Linked DNA regions of Homo sapiens: region 1 is linked to region 2. The links come from fine-mapping of genetic effects on gene expression. A gene starts in region 2. The other region holds a variant in brackets. All regions are shown on one strand. Distances are from middle to middle. Region 1 overlaps DLC1 (DLC1 Rho GTPase activating protein). Region 2 holds the start of DLC1 (DLC1 Rho GTPase activating protein).

Region 1 (5,388 bases), 150 kb before region 2:
TCCATGTTGCTCAGGCTGGTCTCGAACTCCCAACCTCAGGTGATCCTCCCGCCTTGGCCTTCCAAAGTGCTGGGATTACAGGTGTGAACCACCACAGCAGGCCTGCATAATGATACTTCTATCTCCCCTTTTGTTTACTGACCCTACATACTGGTACATGAACCATGCAAGCACATAAGCTTACATGGATTCCCTTTTTTGGACTAGGAATAGGTGATTTTTAAAATTATCACATGCTATAGACATCTTTGTCAGCCTTTCAAAGACCAATCAAAACCAAACTTTTCCCCTAACTTAGTAAAAACATGTATATTTTAAGGAAAGTCGTCTCATATTTCTAACTCATTTACCCACAAACCATCAAAACAATAAAAATAAATTGCCAACTAAGAAACTCATTTGAGTTTATTAAAATATAATTGCAATGTTTGTTTTCTGTCCTTAAAAGGACCCTCATCTTTTGCCAAGGATTAAATTCTTGGTATGTTTGAGATTGCATGGTAAATCTTTGCCCACAGACTTGCAACACTTTCTTCAACTAGGACACGTGTCTTGCTGTTCTAATACTTCATTTACATTTAATCCAATCTGTATTCCCGTAGTATAGTCCTTAGAAATCAAATTCCATTTTAAATTTCCATGTCACAACCTCTATCCTGTTACTGGACTTTGCACAGGTCGAGAGAATACCCTGTAGGGATTCCTTTGTGGACTTAAATTAGGAGAAAAATACTTTGAGTTAGACTGATTATATCTATCCTTTAGAACAAAAGCATGCTAGGCTATTGAATGCAGTGAGTCAGATGTCCACAGGGCTTACTATTATCTAAGGTGCACGTGGAGCTGATCCACGCCTTTGGTGGTAAGTGACTGCACAGCTCCCCTCCCTTGAAGGAGGAACTACTGGCCTCAATTCACTTGCAGATACTATGATAGTTCCAGGATCTTCTGGAAAGTCAGGTGACCCTGTGCCTTTATCCTACTCTAGATGTGACCAGAGTTCAAACAGAAGACACCTGTGAATGCGTTGGAGGGACAAATGCCAGATGCATGAGATGTTACCAATTTCTCTTTTGAGAATGTTGGAGTCCACCTTGCTTAATGAAGCACTTACAGCACTTTCATTGTGCACCACTGAGCGAGCCGTGGTGAGACGGTGCTCCTTCTGGGTTTCCAGACATGTGTCATTTCCACTGCATATTTAGCAGCACATAACTGCCTGCAGTGGGGAGAGCGGAATGTGAGGCATGTCTCACCGAGGAATAGGGTTGTTATTTAAAAAAATTAAAAAAAATCACTCAACTGCTAATGGAAATGTCAACCTCTCAGCCCTATTCTTAAAAATAAATATATACAAGGAGTTCCCCATATGAGAGGCACCTAAGTGACCCAAGATATTCATTTCCCTGAAGTCACTCACAGCAGGCCTGTCTGGAAAAATGCTTTCATCTTCCGCAAAGAGAGGGGAAAATGTACCAGCCAGAAGGTTTAAAGACTAGGACTTTAGAAGGTGAAGTGGGAAAAGTGATCCTTCAGTCAGGTGAATTTGGACCAAACAAGATTAATTTCTATGCTTTCAGCTCAACAAGTGCTGCATAAAGACCACAGAATTATAGACTCGAAGAGAAGCCTCTACGGCTCGTCCAGCTAGCTGTTTAACACTGGGTTCCTCCTAGTCCTGGAATTCCTATTGGGAGCCCAGGGCTGAAGGGGCAGTGAAAATAGTAGGGCTTCCTATTGTTCCTGCCAGGACAACTCTGCTTTCATCTGCTTTCTGGATTGTAATCTACTTTAATTCATTGAGAAAATGTCTGTTGAGCATCCACTACATGCCTGGCGCTGTCCTAAGTATGATGATATCGTAGTGATTAAGATGGACACTGTCCATGGCCCCATGAAACTTGCAGTCTATGGAAGGTTCTTTGTGGGCACATGGTAGGTGTGTGAATGGGGAGGTTCTATGGTTAACACTATGAGTGATATTCTAGCCTTTGAGGATAAATAAACCCAACAAGTTAAAGCCCCACAGCAAATTAACAGAAAAGCTGGGGAAAGAACCCAGAGGTCTTGACTTATACTTCAGTGTTCTTGTTCCCAAGTTCAGACAAGAAGTTCAAACAACAAAAAATTTAGAAATCTGCTTGGTTAGAGCAGATATAAATTTTGGGCCAGAAACTTCCCCTGACTAGGTCTTCTCTCCATTTCTCTCCTTTCGGATGCCCTCTCAGGACTCAGTGAAGGCTCTATGCTCATCCTCAGACACAGGAAAGATCTTTCCAGACCAAGGTCTCCCTTTCCCCTCTGGGTCGAAGGCCACCCAGCTGTACTTTGTTCCAGAAGCTTTCCCATCAGTCATTCTCCCTTCTGGCCGG[G/C]CTCTCCCACACACACTCATCTCTGTGGAATTGCTGGGCTCTTGCATTCCTCGATGTGTTGCATCACTTCCTTCCTTCCTGTCTTGCGTGCATGGGGCACACTTTTCAACCCTCATTCCTGTCTACTCACTCTCCCAACCACGAACTTTGCCTCCTTTCCCTTTCCTCTCCATGTCTCCCTGGAGGCTGTATTCTGTATTTTATAATGCTAAAAATGAGAATAGAGGCCAGATGACACTCAGTGTATTTGTGTCTCTCTCCTTAAAATCCTTTACTCTTTTCTAATTTTGGGTTTCTACTTTAGTCCTGGTCACTCGTTCTGGCTGCTGTCATACCTTGGGTCTTGCAAGGCTAGATCTGATCAGTTTTACAAGGAGAAGGGGACCTGCAGGGTTTATAACTCAGGACGTGAAATGCATCTCACTCAATCCATCCAGATCATGAACTGTGAGGAAACCTAACACAGAGAACTGCTGGCAGTGATTCTACACTGTCCTTAAAGATCCTGTAGTACAGACAGCCTCCTGTTCTTAGGTGCTGCCTACATGTTAGCTTGCATATCTCAATCGTCATTAGGGGGCCCAATAGAAGAAAAGCAAAAAGCAGCCTCCACCTACCAAAGATCTTCCCATGAATTGTTTTTTTGTACAACCTTGTTTCTTGATTACAACAACAACAACAAAACAAAATAAGACAAAGACGTGCTTATTTGTTTTTGTGAAGGGTGTGTTTTCTTTACATAGTCTAGCACACTGAATCTTTCCTGTATCCTTTGAAGTCATCATATCAGGCACTTTGTGATGTTTAGTGAAATACTCTGTAGTAGAAGTGAAGTACTCTGCAGTTTATTCTTCTCTTTTGTGTTTTGTTTCATCTGAAATTGGTCAATTTCAGGATGAATTCTGCAGGTTTGGCCAGTCTGCCAGCACCAGGGCAAGGAAGTGAGACAGGAGAGGTTTCAAGAGATTCTTCAAGTTACATTTGCAAATGAGGATGAGATAGTAAGATTAGGACAAGAGCCTTGAGAAGTTTTTCGGCTTAGACAGGAATTTCACAGAAATAAACATAGACTCTCTTCAAATCCCAATTATGACCAATAATTGTGTGGGGTTTGGAAGAGTGTCTATACCTCTGGAGCTGGGAATGGTTTCTGGAATGGTGAAGTTCTGTGTTTAAAGCAGTGACTACATCTTTGACCCTGGCTTCAAGAGGCCCTTGTGTTCCAAACAGCTGAATTTAATCCAGTAATATGTAAAGTGGAAAAGAAAGTTAGAGCTCTTCTGTTGAAAGACATAATTGGGAATTTTTAAACAGATTAGATTTGACCCCCACTTTAAATTGAGAGATTAATGTCTCAAACTTGATAAAGGGCCCTCAGACACCATGTCTTCTATCTCCTAGGACAGTATATTTTCCATTACCAAACTCAAATTCATACGTTCCTTTCTTCCCTTCCCCCGCTTTCCATCCTTCTTTCTGGAAACTTGGCATCCTCTTCATAGTAAAGATGTCTGTTGTTGATTAAAGCATTGCCTTGCACCTCAGGCAGCAGCACAACAAGAAGGTCAAGTTCTCATTTGCCCCAAGGAAATCATGAAGGACTTGAGGTTGCTACAGTGAGATATTACCCAAGGGAAAACGCAAGCCAAGGCAGTTAAATTTTTTTTTTTTTTTCTGCATAGAAAAAAAAGTTCTTACAGAATGCCAGTGTTCTGTCAGAGAGAATTTTCCATTTGAGCCACAGTTATTTGTACCAAGTTGACATGCATCATTCCTAATAGGTTAACCTTGGCAGCCTGGTGGAAACACAGATACTCTGAGTTGTTAGGTGAAAGAGCCCTCACGGAAGGGAAGGATGTTTATGGTTTCCAGTTTCTAGAATAAACAAGTTTCTTCCAAGTAAGGATAAGTGATATGGATGTTAGTGATGTTCTTCCTGCTCAGTCCATCTCTGATGATGGTTATTTATTTATTTTAAGAGGGAGTCTCACTCTGTTGCCCAGGCTGGAGGGCAGCGGTGTGATCTTGGCTCACTGCCACCTCTGCCTCCTGGTTTCAAGCAATTCCCCTGCCTCAGCCTCCCAAGTAGCTGAGATTACAGGTGCTCACCACCATGCCTGGCTAATTTTTATATTTAGTAGAGACAGGGTTTCACCATGTTGGTCAGGCTGGTCTCAAACTCCTGACCTCAAATGATCTGATTGCCTCAGCCTTTGATGATGTTTAGAGAATAAGAACATTCAGGGCAGTGCTATGATTACACGGTTCACCTTATTTCCATTCATATGTCCATCCTGCATCCTCAATAGTCTGTAAGTGCCTACAGGCCTAGAGAACATGTGCTGTGTCTTAACCTTCTGTCTCTCTCCTGTCATGCCATAGAGTGGAGTTGTTGAATTTGGTTGAACTTCTAATAGATTCATTCTTTCTATTTAACCTATTGATACCTCCTTTCATAGTCTCGCACGTCCAGTATTTTTGGCTGGGTCGAAAAAAAAAAAAAAAAAAGATTACAAATGTTCTCACCAAAGTCATGAGAGGCTGCTTTTTCTTTTGTTGTTAAATCACATGGGCAATTTTCGGTTCTCATCTCCTCGTCTGAATGATTGTTTTCTGCAACAGTACTCTCTCCTAATTTTTTGGGCACTCCAATTCAGTTTCCTTTGATGAGTTCTCTCATTCTTCTAGTAGCTCGGGCAGAAGCCCTGAAGTCATCCCTGGCTTCTTTCTTTCTCTTATGGACAATGTTCAATTCATCAGAACCCCTGTTTTTTTCTCCCTTAAAAATACATCTAGAATAAGAACAATTTTACCAGCACTGCTGCTAGCTACTTCCTTGGTCCAGACACCATCCTCTCTGGCCTGGAGGGTTACACTTGCCTCCTGCCTGGTCTCCTGGATCCCCCTTCTTGTGCCCATAAGCTGTTCTCAACACACAGCCAAAGTGGTCCACTTGAACCCCAAGTCGGCTCTCCGATCGTCTCCTCAGAGCCCTCCCCTGGCTTCTCATCTCACT
Region 2 (5,388 bases):
GACATTGAAAGGAAGTGTTGAATAGTGTCTCTTTTAAGTAGTAATAACATCAGGAAACTCAATCTGGTCATGAAAATGGAAAAAAAAAGTATCGTGACACATTCTCTCTAAGGAAATGGCAGCTATTAGAAATGGAATGTGTTACATTTATGAGAAAGGGTCTTGTCTGAGAAGGTATACTGCTTCAGCACACACAGCAACAAATATTGTCATATATGAAGTATGATGCAGATGAAATAGCCCACGCTCCCATTTTATACCACGTTGTTCAGACATTTATTTATATACTGTAAAAATTCTGCATTCTACAATTAAATGACTTTGTAGAAGGCTTAGAGCAGACATACAAATCAATTAAGGGATTGCAAACATGCTGGAGAAATGTAAACATATTTTTTATATGTCAACTTAGGCTTTTTATATATTTAGTGAAAAGACCCACATAGAACTTGAAATAAGCTACAGCAACAATGATTTAGGCTAGATAGAAGAAAGGATGCCTGGGGGTGGTGCTGTAAAATTGCCTCTGAAAGTCATTGGTTGGGACAGTTTCATTATGATCATTTGAGTACAAGGATATAAATTAGAAAAGCTGTTTTCTAGCCCTATTTTTAAAGAAACATCAGATTAAAATTAATATAATTATTAGCATATGGATTGATTTTCTTGACATAAACATCAAATATAATAAAATAGTCATAAAGCAAGTTACTACTGTAAAGTGTTTATTGAAGGCATACTGATTTGATTTTTTTTTAAAGTTAGGATTTTTTTCCCCACATAATTAACATTGGTGACAGTTTTACCTTTTTTTTTTTTTTTTTTTAAATTAGAGGAACTGCAAATTTCTGTCTGCAAAGCACCCTTCTACTGGACATGTTCATACTTCATTATGCATAATTATTATGGGAGGGCAGGATGATGGGATAAAAAGGTATCTGAATTATGAATCAGGGCACTGTGGTTCTGCTGTCCTCTCTTCTATTAGCTAGAGGTGTGACCTTGGACAGGTCACTTTTAAATCCCATTTCTCAGCTTCTTGTAGACAACCTCAAGCCATTGTTAGAGGAGACCATCTCTTATGTTCTTTCCTTCTCTGAAATTCCATTTGGAGATTTTAATTAAATCATAATTTAGATAAGTCAGTATTTTATCTTCCACATATATAAAAAGTAGATTCTTTTTCTCATATTTAAGAAGTTTTAACACAAATTGTCAGTGAATAGTTAAAATTTATCAATATAAGTTATTCTAGCATAAAATTTGAGAATAGCTAATATAGCAGATGGTCACCTTGTACTATATAAAAACTTATAATGAAAACAGTTACTTCATTTCTTATGATCCAACTGTCAAAATAGCTCTCCATCTTTCACTTAGTATATTTTGTATTCATCTAATAGATTTGAAAATGTACATGAATATTTCTTCCCTTTATGTACCATTTTATTTCTATAAAATGATGAATTTTATTATAAATATTCAGAAATATAACAGTATCTTATGCATTATAAGTCCACACTTTTTCGGTCATTACTAAACTTCTTTTCTAATATATTGTACATTTAAACATTTAAGATTACCTTGAAGAGACTACAGTCAGGTGGAAATGTAATTTTACGATTACATAAGTAAGGACACAAACAGTTTCCATATGACTGGAGTGATTTCTGGCTGCCTTAAAAGAGTTATAATGAGTGTCAGTGTCATTGAGATTGACTTCAGTTATTCAAAATATTACACAAAATGTGACCGGAGCAAGCAGTGAATCCAGGAAAATTAATATAAACTAAATTCGATTCCGACATTTAAATTTCCAAAACTCAGATTAAATACTATTTAGGACAGAAATAATTCCTGAAATTTCACGTGTTTACTTTTTTTTTTTAAATGAACCTTTTAAGCTGTACAGGAGAAGCTTGACATATGATTGAAACTGGCTTGGGTAAAATAATAAGAAATTCAATCTTCGTAGTTTTAAATGAGACACAAAATACTCTTTGGAGACTGATTATTAAGCACAAGTCACTCGGGTGCTTTCTACTCTCCCTGTTGGCAAAGGAAGGTAGGGGAGGAATTCATTTACACCTCACACTGATGTGTGAGAAAATGTATTTGTTTCACGTTATGCCAAGAAATAGGAAAACTGATCCGACAGCTCAATTAATAAATAAGTTAAACGTAAAAAGGGATAAAAATAAAATCTTACTTTATGGAGGAAAAGAGTTAAATCTATATGGAGCCTGTTTTAGAACTGACAGTTTGCTAAAACGAATTGACTCAGAATTTTCTACTTATCAAACATTTTCCACTTCTGATTTTATGGCTTTGCTCTAAAACCTAGGAAGTCACCAACTCCGTGCAAGATGCTAACATTTATCTCAATCTTTCTGCCTCTTCAAAGACCGCCTCAAAGCATAAAGATAGTCCATAGCGTCTTACCTAGACAACGAGGAGCTGAAACGCCAAGGCATGACACTGCTCAACACTCAGGCTAGGAAAGAAGTCCGTCCCCGTTAGTTTCTCCAAAATCTAAGTTCCCATTTCGTGGTTGAGATCATGGCTCTATTCTGAGCAGTTTCACGCAGTGTGTGAGTCTAACAAAAACACCCTCTGCAGCTGGAGGGAGCCTTAGCTAAGGCAGGATCCTGTCAAGGCATTCCTAGTGACTTCTGTCTACTAAATTCAGACTGAGGTTTTGCAAAAGGGGCCTCCACAACCAGGCCCAGATTGCCTGGAAAGTATTTCCTGCCTCTGAGGAGTGTGCATGCTAGAAAGGCTGTACGAAGAGAGGGGAGGAGGGGAGAGCCCAGCCGCCTGGGCGTTTTAGGAGTTCTGATTTTACACAGAACTCAAGTGAGTTTTGTCAAAGCTCTTGAGGTGATTAGCTGTAGAGTCATAAAGTCCTAGAGCTTTTTCTATCCCACACTGCTTATGAAAAAAGAAAGAAAGAAAGAAAGAAAACGTAGTTTTCTCTCTATCCACAACCTTTCCACTATATTAAATGTATATGCACAGCTTAATCAAAATGCCTGTGCTTGCTCTCATTTCAAAAGATCTTTTAAGAGAGCAAGATGAATTTAGCCTTAATACCATAATTCTTCTAAATGGCAAAACCTTTTTTGAACATGACTTAAAATTGGAAATGCTGCAGCTTTTCATTCTGTCCCTGAGACCATCTGTAAGTAAAATCCCAAGCATCCAGTTAATAGAACGATTTCTTCCAGATCTCTCTGATCACAAGAATCCTTCACAGAATTAAAATAGTTCGTGTTATGGCAAATGCAGCAGCGCATTACCTCTAGTCAGAATCCTCCAGTTACAAAAATCCAGTGCTGGAGCAGAAGACAGGCTCCATCTTGATCGTATTAGAGTCTTGCTGACATTAAACACTTACAACTGCTTCCATCTAGCATGGCAGCGTTCCTGAATCACATCTCTAAAGCCGCTCATGGTATCTGCATCCTTCGTCCGTCACAAATTTTGTGAACTATCATCTGTTTATCTTTTCTGCTTTCTTGTGCCTCCCTTGAATGACTTCCTCCTAGCTGCTCCAGGTTGGGAATTTGGACTACCATTTGGTTTTGATTAAAACCAGACAGGCAACTCTGGAGAATTTAGGGAATAAGCTAATGGAAACTGCAAGTATGGCTTTAATTAGTGCATCAATTAATAATAGATGTTAGCTCGTCTTATAATAAGATATCACAAATACAAACACAGAGGAAGCTGAAGTCGTTTCAGGAAAAAAGTTACACCAATTTTCCTTCCTTTATGACCCAGAATCCTCTTTAGAGAATGTGGAAGGAAAGAAGAGGGAGGTGGTTTTGGGACATCCAGGCTGTGGAGAGGCCAGTAGAGCAGCTTCATTGTTTATACCAGGGAAGCAGGAAACAGCATCTCTGACTTTAATTATCTTGCTTGGTGGAAATGGCTCAGTCATGTCTCCCTTCTACTTTATTTACAATCAATGGATTTCGCTGCTATTTATGACTCAAGCATTTTTTTGGGGGGGGACTGATGATCAGATTAATTATTAGGTCTATCTGCTTCTTGCAAATTTCTAGAAGCTTTCAATAATAGGAAGTGCAAGAATAATTCCAGTTGGATGTGATAAAATGAGTAACATATAAAGAGGTAAAAGACATCTTAAACTTGTTGGCCCTAAGATCTATCCTGTTCTTCTCTGAAATTGTAAGTAGTTTTCATTGTTCACTGTTATTCTCCATCCCTGTATATCACAAGGGCTATCTTGTAGTACTTTTTGATAATATTGGGTAGGTGATAACTCAAAGATGCACAAGGTTCTAACTACTATTTTTTTCCTTATTAGGTAGCTAAAATCTCTCAAAGTTAATGCAAATCATGAACCATATTAGACCCATGTTAGATGGCAAGAATGACTTATACTGTGCATGAGTTTGAAGATGAGAAGTAGTCAAATAAAAACGTTTGGTCAGAAGCAGCTTTAAAAGTTTAGATCAAAGTCTTATTGACTAAAAACATGAGCATTTAGGTTTCTTTAATTTAATCTTCAACCATAGGCCAAGAAAGAAGTCTGTTCTTCCATAAATTCTTTAAAAAGTATTTATATTTATATTCAAAGTGTTTCTACTGACAGTATGCCTATTTAATCTTTCCAACAATTTTGCGTGTATTCATATGTTTTATTTTACAAATAAAGTATTGAGAAGCAATTTTCTCACAGTCAAATGATACAAAGTGCCCAGGTCCACACTGGAACTCAGATATTCTAGCTCCAAGCTTTGTGCTTTAATTTTTTCTCCATAAACTGCCTTCCTTGACTTCCACTTAATTTCTTTATTAAATTGGGAAGACTTCTTAAACTCTAATAGTTTCTCTTTAAAAATAGAGACAATTTCACATAACTTATAGATTGGAAAGCAGGATGAAATTTATATGCAGAAATATTTGTGTATTTATGTTTATTTCCCTAAGAAAAACACTGGAGAAGAAAGGAATGAGAACTGATATTATGTCTTTCCTAATATAACTTGATATCTCTATCTCTGTCACTGCCTTTAGTACTGATATACAGTGGTTACTCAATATTATATCAGCATCATGCTAATTCTTAGCTACATTTTATTCATGAATACTGTACCCCGCGCCATATACTTTAGTTTTGTTTCTATTTCTATTGGCTTGGGAAAACAAGAAAACTCTGTTCACAAATGCCTTTTAGATATCTAGAAACTCTTGTTAGTAAGTTTCTCATAAACATACCCTTTTCTACACAAAAAATACATTATGTTTTCTTCTATTAATAGGATTACTTCCCAAATCTTTAATTACTTATATTTATTTTTCATTGTTGAGTTGCTTGATTCCAAACAAATCTCAGATCTTATAGTCTTATAAAGGCTT

The links. PIP is the estimated chance that this variant, and not a neighbour inherited with it, causes the effect.
Region 1: its variant is fine-mapped to the expression of DLC1 in fibroblasts (GTEx, PIP above 0.99).

The regions. Positions count from the first base shown.
Region 1 is chr8:13,364,494-13,369,881 of GRCh38, forward strand. All of the region lies in intron 4 of DLC1 (DLC1 Rho GTPase activating protein), which reads right to left. Among named protein-coding and RNA genes, the nearest start is that of DLC1, 150 kb to the right of the region's middle. RefSeq lists an enhancer at 1,842-3,041. The variant G/C (reference allele first, on the strand shown) is at 2,373.
Region 2 is chr8:13,512,160-13,517,547 of GRCh38, forward strand. DLC1 (DLC1 Rho GTPase activating protein) reads right to left here and starts at 2,692. Exons shown (of 18, transcript NM_182643.3): 1 at 2,443-2,692.